Regions from separate parts of the Homo sapiens genome. Here region 1 is linked to region 2. The links come from fine-mapping of genetic effects on gene expression. A gene starts in region 2. The other region holds a variant in brackets. All regions are shown on one strand. Distances are from middle to middle. Region 1 overlaps GRID2IP (Grid2 interacting protein). Region 2 holds the start of ZDHHC4 (zDHHC palmitoyltransferase 4).

Region 1 (5,374 bases), 32 kb before region 2:
CCAGCACTTTGGGAGGCGAAGGTGGGTGGATCATCTGAAGTTAGGAGTTCGAGACCAGCCTGGCCAACATGGTGAAACCCCATCTCTACTACAAATACAAAAATTAGCTGAGCATCTGATGGCAAACGCCTGTAATCCCAGTTACTCGGGAGGCTGAGGCAGGAGAATTGCTTGAGCCTGGGAGGCGGAGGTTGCAGTGAGCCAAGATCGTGCCACTGCACTCCAGCCTGGTGACAGAGCGAGGCTCTGTCTCAAAAAAAAAAAAAGCCCCCTTTGTAGTCAAGGCCAAATCACCAGGCCACAGACACCTCACCATTCCCAGTCTCCACCCCTTTCTTCCTGCCACCTACTTGTCATTCAGCTTTCAGCTCAAAGATCATCTCATCAGGCAGCCTTTCCTGGCCACCCTGTCAAAGTGGGTTGCGTCACTCTCACCTCACCCTATTTATGCCTCCACTTTATTCATCATCATCTTTTTTTTTCTGGAGTCAGGGTCTTGCTCTGTTGCCCAGGCTGGAGTGCAGTGGTGCAATCATAGCTCCCTGTGGCCTTGAACTCCTGTGTTCAAGCGATCCTCCCACCTCTGCCTTCCGAGTAGCCAGGATCACAGGTGCACGCCACTGTGCTTGGCTAATTTAATTTAATTTTATTATTATTATTATTATTTGAGAGAAAGTCTCACTCTGTCGCTCACTCTGTCGCTCTGTGCAGTGGTGGGATCTTGGCTCACTGCAACCTCCACCTCCTGAGTTCAAGCAGTTCTCCTGACTCAGCCTCCCAAGTAGCTGGGATTATAGGCAAATGCCACCACGCCCGGCTCATTTTGGTAATTTTTGTAGAGATGGGGTTTCACCATGTTGGCCAGGCTGGTCTCAAACTCCTGACCTCAGGTGATCCTCCCACCTCGGCCTCCCAAAGTGTTGGAATTACACGTCTGAGCCATCGTGCCTGGCCTGTCATGATCTTTAATAGCTTGTGTATTGATTAATCCACTTGCTTACTGTCTCTTTCCCTGCAGTAATGTTAGGTGTGTGAAGTCAGGCTCCTTGCCTGTGTTGTTCATGGCTGTTTCCCCTGTCCTGCACATCATAGGCCCATGATCAATGACTGGTAAATGCATGGTTTTCTTTTTCTTTTTTCTTTCTGTTTTTTTTGAGATGGAGTGTCACTCTTATTGCCCAGGCTGGAGTGCAATGGCATGATCTCGGCTCATTGCAACCTCTGCCTCCCGGGTTCAAGCGACGCTCCTGCCTCACCCTCCTGAGTAGCTGGGATTACAGGCACCCGCCACCACAACCAGCTAATGTTTTGTGTTTTTAGTAGAGACAGGGTTTCTCCATGTTGGCCAGGCAGTCTCGAGCTCCTGACCTCAGGTGATCCACCCGCCTCAGCCTCCCAATGTGCTGGGTTTACAGGTGTGAGCCACTGTGCCCGGCCTGCATGGTTTTCAGTATATCTACTTCTCCATTCCCTGCAGCTTATATAAATGTTCAAGTCTCTCTCAGGCTATAAATAAATAAATAACAAGCTGGGCACAGCAGCTCATGCCTATAATCCCAGAGCTTTGGGAGGACAAGGCGGGAGGATCACTTGAGGCCAGGAGTTGGAGACCAGCCTGGGCAACATAACCAGACCCTGTCTCTAAAAAATGAAAGACAGCCGGGCGCGGTGGCTCATGCCTGTAATCCCAGCACTTTGGGAGGCCGAGGCAGGCGGATCACAAGGTCAGGAGATCGAGACCATCCCAACTGACACGGTGAAACCCCGTCTCTACTAAAAATAGAAAAAAAATTAGCCAGGTGGGCGTGATGGCGGGCGCCTGTAGTCCCAGCTACTCGGGAGGCTGAGGCAGGAGAATGGTGTGAACCCGGGAGGCGGAGCTTGCAGTAAGCCGAGATCGCGCCACTGCACTCCAGCCTGGGTGACAGAGACAGACTCCATCTCAAAAGAAAAAAAAGAAAGAAAAGAAAAAGTAAAAAGTTAGCCAGATATGGTGGTGCACGCTTGTATTCCCAGCTACCAGATACTTGGGAGGCCGAGGTAGGAGGATCTCTTGTGCCCGGGAAATCAAGGCTGCAGTAAGCCATGATCACACCACTGAGCTCCAGCCTGGGTGACAGATCAAGACCCTGTCTCCATAAATAAATAAATAAAAGACAATCCTCCTTTGATCCTGAAAGCTGCTCATTCTCCTCCCTTCTGTAGTCTGGAGCCGTCTACACGTGCTGTTTCTGTACCACTGCCCTTTGCCACTGCAGTTCACTATTGCACTTGAGGCTCTCCACGACCCAGCTCTGGCGAAGAACCCCAGACAGTGACTCTCAGACCTCGATCTTCAGCCGAGAGCTCGCTCTTGAACTCTGGAACTGTATATCCACCCGCTTTCTAGATGATTCCAAAAGGGGAGGAGAAGTAGCGGGAAGCTTCGAGGGTTTCCAGTCAGAGGCCACGTTCTGTACACGTCTGAATCCTAGCACAGATGCACCATGAGTCTGTGTAACCGTCTGTCTCCCCCACCCAGGTGTGATGATCCGGGGTCTCATGCTTGTCCAGCCCCAAGCACAGCGCCTGGCACATATTAGGCACTCAGAGAATGTGGATGGGACTGAATCAAAAAGCAGCCTTGCATTGCACTTCCTGCAGGCCCCAGCTCACCACTGTTTCCCTCCCTGTGAGTGGGCCAGGCTGGCAGCACCAGCCGCC[C/T]CCTCCCCACGCACGCGCCGTGCTGGGGAAGGTTGCCAGTTTGGAAATCAAAGTCAGCAGCAACCTCAATTCAAAGGAGAACATGGCTGGCTGCAGAGATGTTTTATGTAAGAAAGAGGAAAAAATAGTTCCTCCCTCCTGGGGCCCGTGCTACAGTGCGGTTTCGGTGTCAGTTATTACCCAGATGTTCTCAGCCTACATCTAAGCATGAGGTATCATCACGGGACACTAATGGATTTTCTATTAAATATCAGCCACTTCAAGGAGGAAAAACTGGGGCAGGCAGAAAGCGCAGGCGAGAACTGGAGGGCTGGTGATTGAAAACCAACCAGTCTGGCGCAGTGGCTCATGCCTGTAATCCCAGCACTTTGGAAGGCAGAGGCAGGTGGATCACCTGAGGTCAGGAGTTTGCGACTAGCTTGACCAACATGGTGAAACCCCATCTCTACTTGAACTCCTGACCTCAGGTGACCTGCCTGCCTCGGCCTCCCAAAGTGCTGGGATTACAGGTGTGAGCCACCGTGCCCAGCCAAGCCACCAAGCCTGGCCTGTCTCTACTAAAAAAAATACAAAATTAGCCGGGCGTGGTGGTACATGCCTGTAATCCCAGCTTCTTGGGAGGCTGAGGCAGGAGAATTGCTTGAACCCAGGAGGCGGAGGTTGCAGTGAGCCAAGATCACGCCATTGCACTCCAGCCTGGGCAACAAGAGCGAAACTCTGTCTCAAAAAAAAAAAAAAAAAGATAGAAAACCAACTGGGCTCCACGGAGGCCCTTCATCTTCCAGAGGAAGTCATTTTTGGAGATTCACTCTCAGCTTTTGTGGGTGCCCAGCGAGCCCTAACCAAAATCCTCCACTTCCCCGTTCCTCCTTGCCAGAAAACACACTGCAGCTGGCCTGGGCAGCCTGTCGGATTCTACCCTCAGCGGGTTGCTGCCCAGCCCTGCTCCTGGGCAGGTCTTCTCTTGCATCCTGCCCTGTTTGGAGCTCTGAACGTGCCCCCTTCCAACTCTGCAGGGATTAGATGGAGTCTGGGATAGACCTTTGGCTCCATGGCAGGTGATCTGGGATTGTAGCAGGCATTACTCGCACTCACCAATATTTCTAGGTCTTCCCTCTTTCCTGGACACACATTAGACTACATTTCCCAGCATCCTTAGGGAGGAGCAGTGTACCTAGTTCTGCCCAATGAGCATTGAGGACAGGTGCTGTTCTAAGAGGAGATGCACAATTTTCCAAGCTCTCTTCCTCTTCCATAGGGAACCCTGAAGCTTCACATAGAGATGGAGGAGTCTGAAATGCTGAGACCTCGTATGGACATCAAGCCACCCTAGAAAGTCTACTGACCCCCTAGAGGACTCTGTGGGTGAAAAGTAAACTTCTGTAGTGCAAACGCACTAAGTTGTTGATTTTGGGTCAGGCACAGTGGCTCACACCTATAATCCCAGCACTTTGGGAGGCTGAGGCAGGAGAATTGCTTGAGGCCAGGAGTTTGAGACTAGCCTGGGCAACATAGCAAGACCTCATCTCCCCAGTCTTTTTTTTTTTTCTTAATCAGCCAGGTGTGGTGGTGCACACCTGTGGTCCCAGCTACTAGAGAGGCTGAGGCAGGAGGATCACTTGAGCCCAGGAGTTGGAGGCTGTAGTGAGCTATGATTGTACCACTGCACTCCAATCTGGGCAACAGAGCTAGACCCTGTCTCAAAAACAACAACAATAAAAAATGTTGGGTTTGTTTGTTATAGCAGCAGAGCCTGTTGTGGGTACAGGAAGAAAGTCACAGCTTTGGAAGATCTGGACTTTGGTGATGTAGGGAAGCTGGAGTTGAGTCCTGTGTGTATGCGAGTGTGTGTATCTGGCCACAGAGGCTGGTCTACTCAGGGTCAGAAAAGCCCATTCAGGGGATCAGGCTAGGGTACATGATGGAGGAGACACTCCTGAGGGGGTTAATTTGGAAGGGGTTAGGACTGGACCAAGCTTGGGCACTGAAGGAGGCCAGAGTGGGTGGGGACCTGATGCCTGGGCAGTGGGCTGGGAGGCATTTCTGCAATAGTCAAACTCCGACAAAGTTTCCAGGCTCCCTGACCTCCCAAACCCCATGGCCAAGTGCTGCTGGGGCAGAACTGAGCAGATTCCCTTCCACGGAGGAAAAGTCTGTGAGCTTGATAACACAACAGGGTGACTATAGCCAATAATAACTTAATTGTCCATTTTAAAATAACTTAGGCCAGGTGCAGTAGCTCACACCTGTAATTCCAGCACTTTTGGAAGGCCGAGGTAGGCAGATCTCCTGAGGTCAGGAGTTCAAGACCAGCCTGGACAACATAGTGAAACCGTGTCTCTACTATAAATACAAAAATTAGCCAGGCATGGTGGTGGGGGCCTGTAATCCCAGCTCCTTGGGAGGCTGAGCCAGGAGAATTGCTTAAACCCGGGAGGCGGAGGTTGCAGTGAGCCGAGATCGTACCACTGTATTCCCTGGGCAACAGAGCGAGACTCTGGCTCCAAAAAAAATAAATACAAACTTAAACGGTGTAGATGGATTGTTTATAACTCAAAAGATAAATGCTTGAGGGGATGGGTACCCCATTCTCCATGACATGCTTATTTCACATTGCATGCCTGTATTAGAGTATCTCAGATACCCCATAAATATATACACGTATTAGGTA
Region 2 (5,374 bases):
TTTTGAGTGATATCAAGGATGTAGATTTCCTTCTGATATAAGTTATCATTTTCTTTCATTCATTCAGTTGATACATTTTTATTGGGCATCTACTATGAGCTAGGTGCTAAAATAGTTGCTACTGATATAACAGTAAGCCAACACAGATCCAGTCCTTTTTTTTTTCTTTTCTTTTCTTTTTTTTTTTTTTTGAGACAGGGTCTTGCTCTATTGCCCAAGCTGAAATACAGTGGCACAGTCATGGTTCACTGCAGTCTCAAATTCCTGGACTCAAGCAATCTTCCTGCCTCATCCTGCCTCAGCCTCCCCAAGTAGCTGAGACTACAGGTGTACACCACCACACCTAACTAATTGAAAACTTTTTTGTAGCGGTGAGGTCTCACTAGGTTGCTCAGCCTTGTCTTAAACTCCTGGTCTCAAGGGATCAGCCCTCCTCAGCCTCCCAAAGTGTTGGGATTACCGGTATAAGCCACTATGCATGGTTCAAAAATACTTTTATGTTCCTTTCCTTCTTCTTAATTTCTCCATGGCAAAATTCCTCATGGTCAATAAATCACTGATTGTAAACAAGCATCATGTGTGATATGCCTTTTGCAAGCGTAGCTACGAAGTCCTGTATCCCATTTCCAAAGTATAGCATCCATCATTCCCTTGGGGACAAGAGATCGTGGTGTAAAGCTGGTTGATCCTGTCAACTGATCTCACAGCAGGTAAAAAACTGATACTGCAGGTCCAGTTTCAGGAGCTGACAGGAGCGTTTAGCAACACTCCAAAGAGGAATTCTTTGCTCCATGCATCACAAGCAAGGCAATCCTTTTGATCACACTTGAATTTTTGGTTTTAAGCTTAAGTAGTCTGTTTTCTCTTATGCTATTTATAAAATGCAGGTGTCAAGGTTTGCGCTTGGATGTTTTAAAGAGGCAAAAAATCAAACATGCCTAGGTTTCAGGAACTGACCAAGTGCTGAGAGATTAATCTTTTTTTTTTTTTTTTTCTGAACCAGGGTCTTGTTTTGTGGTCCAGGCTGGAATGCAGTGGTGTGATCCTAACGCACTGCAGCCTTGACCTCCTGGGCTCAAACAATCCTCCCACCTCAGCTTCCTAAGTAGCTGGGACCACATGTGCATGCCAGCACACCCGGCTAATTTTTAAATTTTTTGTAGAGACAAGGTCTCCATATGTTGCCCAGACTGTTCCCAAACTCCTGGGCTCAAGCGATCCTCCCACCTCGGCCTCCTGAAGTGCTGGAATTATAGGTATGAGCCTTGGTTTTTCAATTCTGGGTCCATAAATTTATGAAGACCTTGGATACAATGTACACAGGAGAAGGCATCCTGTTGGTAAGGAGTTTCATAAAAAGGAAAAGAAAACGCATCAAGAAGCTGACGTAGGTAGCAAAGAGACAGGAAAAGAGAAGAGCTTTAAGGCCAGTGTTTGGAGATCAGACATTTCCCCTCAAAGGAGGACAGGCCTGGCTCAGGTCTTCAGAGGCATCAGGAATAGACCCTGGCCTCAGCTGATTCAGAGATGGTCAGAGCAAAGGACACCCCACAGGGCCTTCTCAGGGCTATGTTTGGAAGCAGCTCTTGTTACCCCAAGCCTGCCTAGCATCAAACACCCTTCCCTTTTATCCTCAACGTTTGTGGTCAAGTATTTGTCACTGCCCCGAGGATATTTAGGGCTGTACAGAGCAACATGTCCTTGTCATCAGGAGCAAGGACACACATGGAGCGGAATCTGACTGATGGGTACACATTGTGCTTTCTGCCCGCTTCTGCAACGGAAGATGCTGGAAATGTTCTGCTAGATCTCAACAGTGTGGGTGGCTGAAAGCAAACTCTGTCCACCACACAGACATAGTCTGAGAGCCCCCTAAGTGTGACTGCCCTGGGCCACCTGGATCCCCCTGCTGGGCTCTGAGCAGGGACATGACTGGTCTCTGTGCAGGCCGCAGGGCAGCTTAGTCCCTGTCACAGCCCCAGAATGATCGCCCCCACCAGGCCCAGGTCGGTCCTCCTGTAAGTCTCCTGGCAATACTGCTCTAAAATCCCACTTCCAGCCCAGTGCAGGGACTCACGCCTGTAATCTCAACACTCTGGGAGGCCGAGGTGGGAGGATCACTTGAGCCCGGGAGTTCGAGATCAGCTTGGGCAACATAGTGAGACACCCGTCTCTACAAAAAAAAAAAAAAAAAAAAAAAAATTAGGCGGGTGTGGTGGCATGCACCTGTGGTCCCAGCTACTTGGGAGGCTGAGGCAGGAGGCATTGCTTGAGCCCAGGAGTTGGAGGTTGTAGTGTGCTAGGATAGCGCCATTGCACTCCGGCTTGGGCGACAGAGCGAGGCTGTTTCTGAATGAATGAACGAATACATAAGTAAATAAGAAAATAGGTAATACATAAAATAAAATAAATAAAATAAAATAAAATAAAATAAAATAAAATAAAATAAAATAAATAAAATAAAATAAATAAAATAAAATAAATAAAATAAAATAAATAAAATAAAATAAATAAAATAAAATAAAATAAAATAAAATAAAATAAAATAAAATAAAATAAAATAAAATAAAATCGCACTTCCCAGCGGTTACACCCGGCCACGGAGGTCCCCAGGCTGGCTGCGAGGGCGCCGGGGAGGTCACTGTTACTCCAGCCCCGCAACCCGCGGCGGCCCTCGCACACTTCCGCCGGAAGTCAGCCCCTCAGGGGCGCCGTGCTGATGTCACGAGCCCGCAGGAAGTCTCGTATCGCGCCCGGGAGGCGCCGGAGCCCAGCGGCTGGCGGTAAGGCCGCCTCCGCGGGGCTGTGGGAAGCTTGGGCTGTCCCAGGACCGTCAGTCTCCTCCTCTGACCCTCCCTTTCCCCTTGTGTGTAGGGCCGCCGTCCCACCCCCACCTCGCCCGAGTCCGGGGCGGCCCCGGTGTCCCCTCCGAGCCTGCTGCACTCCACGTCCCCCTACCAGGGCTCCAGCCCCCAGGGAAATCTCCGACCAGGCCCGCCCAGGAGGTGCCTTGGATGGGGGTGGCTTCGGGAGGCCCTAATGGGGAGTGGCGGGGAGAGACCCAAGGCTACCGACTTGGCTTATTTCTTCCCAACTAGCTGTTTCTCACAAAGTCTTTATTATTATTGTATTTTGAGACGGGGTTTCGCTCTTGTTTCCCAGGCTGTAGTGCAGTGGCGCGATCTCGGCTTACTGCACCCTCCGCCTCCCGGATTCAAGCAATTCTGCCTCAGCCTCCCCAGTAGCTTGGATTACAGGCATGCGCCATCACGCCCAGCTAATTTTTTTTGTATTTAGTAGAGACGGATTTCACCATGTTGGTCAGGCTGGTCTCGAACTCCTGACCTCAGGTGTTCTACCCGCCTCGGCCTCCCAAAGTGCTGGGATTATAGGCGTGAGCCACCGCGCCCGGCCTCTTTTATTGTTTTTAGAGATGGGGTCCAGCTCTATGGCCCAGGCTGGAAGGCAGTGGCACGATCACAGCTCACTGCAGCCTCGACCTCCTGGGCTCAAGCCATCCTTCCACCTCAGCCTCCCAAGTAGCTGGGACCACAGGCGCGGGCCACCACGCCCCACTGATTTTTAAATTTTTATGTAGGGACAGTGATCTCACTGTGTTGCCCAGGCTGGTCTCGAACTCTTAACCTCAAGCTATCCTCCTGCCTGGGCCTCCCAAAGATTTGGGAGCAGGCCTAAGCAACTTAGTCTGGGCCATTTCTCCCAAAGTCTTACCCATTCATGCTGGGGGTGCTGAAAATCCCCTACTTCCAAATCCTTTTCCACAGGTATTCTGCCTTTGACTGCAACTCTTGTCGTCTTATGTGGGTGTTGAATTGATCTGTCTCTGCAGCCAGATCCAGGCTCCTGGAAGAACCATGTCCGGCAGCTACTGGTCATGCCAGGCACACACTGCTGCCCAAGAGGAGCTGCTGTTTGAATTATCTGTGAATGTTGGGAAGAGGAATGCCAGAGCTGCCGGCTGAAAATTACCCAACCAAGAGAAATGTAGGCTGGGTACCCTGAATCACCCCGTGAGAATTGCTGCTGTTTGTTTACTCTCACCTATCATGTCATGAATAGCTTCTTGTTTGGTTATCTCACTTGGCATTACAGCCCAGAATCTTATCTGCTAAGGTCAAAAGTGACCAGTTCCGGTATCTTTTTTGGTTTGTTTTTGAGACAGGGTCTCATGCTGTCGCCCAGGCTTGAACTCCTGTGCTCAAGCAATCCTCCCGCCTCAGCCTCCACAGGCATGCGCAACCACACTTGGCTAATTTTTGTATTTTTTGTAGAGATGGGGGTCTCGCTTTGTTGCCCAGGCTGGTCTTGAACTCCTGGGTTCAAGTGATCCTCCCACCTCAGCCTTCCAAAGTGCTGGGAGTACAGGCACGAGCCACTACGGCCGGCCAATTCCAGTACCTTTTTTTTCTTCTTTTTTTTTCTTAAACCGCTACACTATGGAAAAGAGTTCCAGTATCCAGTGTCTTTTCTTTTTTTTTTTTTGAAACGGAGTCTCGCTCTGTTGCCCAGGCTGGAGTGCAGTGGCGCGATCTCGGCTCACTGCAACCTCCGCTTCCTGGGTTCAAGAGATTCTCCTGCCTCCACCCCCTGAGTCGCTGGGATTACAGGCATGTGCCACCACGCCCGGTTAATTTTTGTGTTTTTAGTATAGATGGGGATTACACCATGTTGGCCAGACTGGTCTCGAACTCCTGACCTCGTGATCCGCCTGCCTCGACATGCCAAAGTGTTGGGATTACAGGCATGAGCCACCACGCTCGGCCTCAGTATCCAGTATTTTAACGCAGGCCTGTGTGTTGACTCTGGTTCCAGAGGGTAATTCCTGATGGTTGTGGCCAGTGTCCTGGAGGGATGCTTCTTAGGACAGGATGCCTGATTCTGGGTGCAGGGCTCCTGACTGCCTCTAGGAGATGCTTGTTCTCAAGGCATTGTCAGCAGATTCTTTGGGGACACATCTTGTATCTTTGTGAATATTTAAGGAAGTAAAAGAATGATTCATGCCTGGGGGCAAGGAAGGAGGATGCATGTTCTTTCTTGGTTTATTTTGGATTTGCAAGTTGGAGATGCTTCAAAGGCAGGCCACAGTCTTAGGGTGTTAGATTCAAAGTTTTTATCTTGGGCAGGTGCAGTGGCTCACGCCTGTACTCCCAGCACTTTGGGAGGCCGAGGCAGGTGGATCACCTGAGTTCAAGAGTTCGAGACCAGCCTGGCCAACATGGTGAAACCTCATCTCTACTAAAAATACAAAAATTAGCCAGGCATGGGGTGCGTGCCTATAATCCCAGCTACTCAGGAGGCTGAGGCAGGAGAATTGCTTGAACCTGGGAGGCGGAGGTTGCAGTGAGCCAAGATC

What was found.
Region 1: its variant is fine-mapped to the expression of ZDHHC4 in whole blood (INTERVAL, PIP above 0.99).

What each region holds. Positions count from the first base shown.
Region 1 is chr7:6,543,143-6,548,516 of GRCh38, forward strand. All of the region lies in intron 1 of GRID2IP (Grid2 interacting protein), which reads right to left. Among named protein-coding and RNA genes, the nearest start is that of GRID2IP, 5.6 kb to the right of the region's middle. The variant C/T (reference allele first, on the strand shown) is at 2,704.
Region 2 is chr7:6,574,716-6,580,089 of GRCh38, forward strand. It overlaps ZDHHC4 (zDHHC palmitoyltransferase 4), which reads left to right and starts at 2,739. Exons shown (of 8, transcript NM_001134389.2): 1 at 2,739-2,783; 2 at 3,851-4,005. RefSeq lists a silencer at 2,759-3,088 and an enhancer at 3,367-3,982.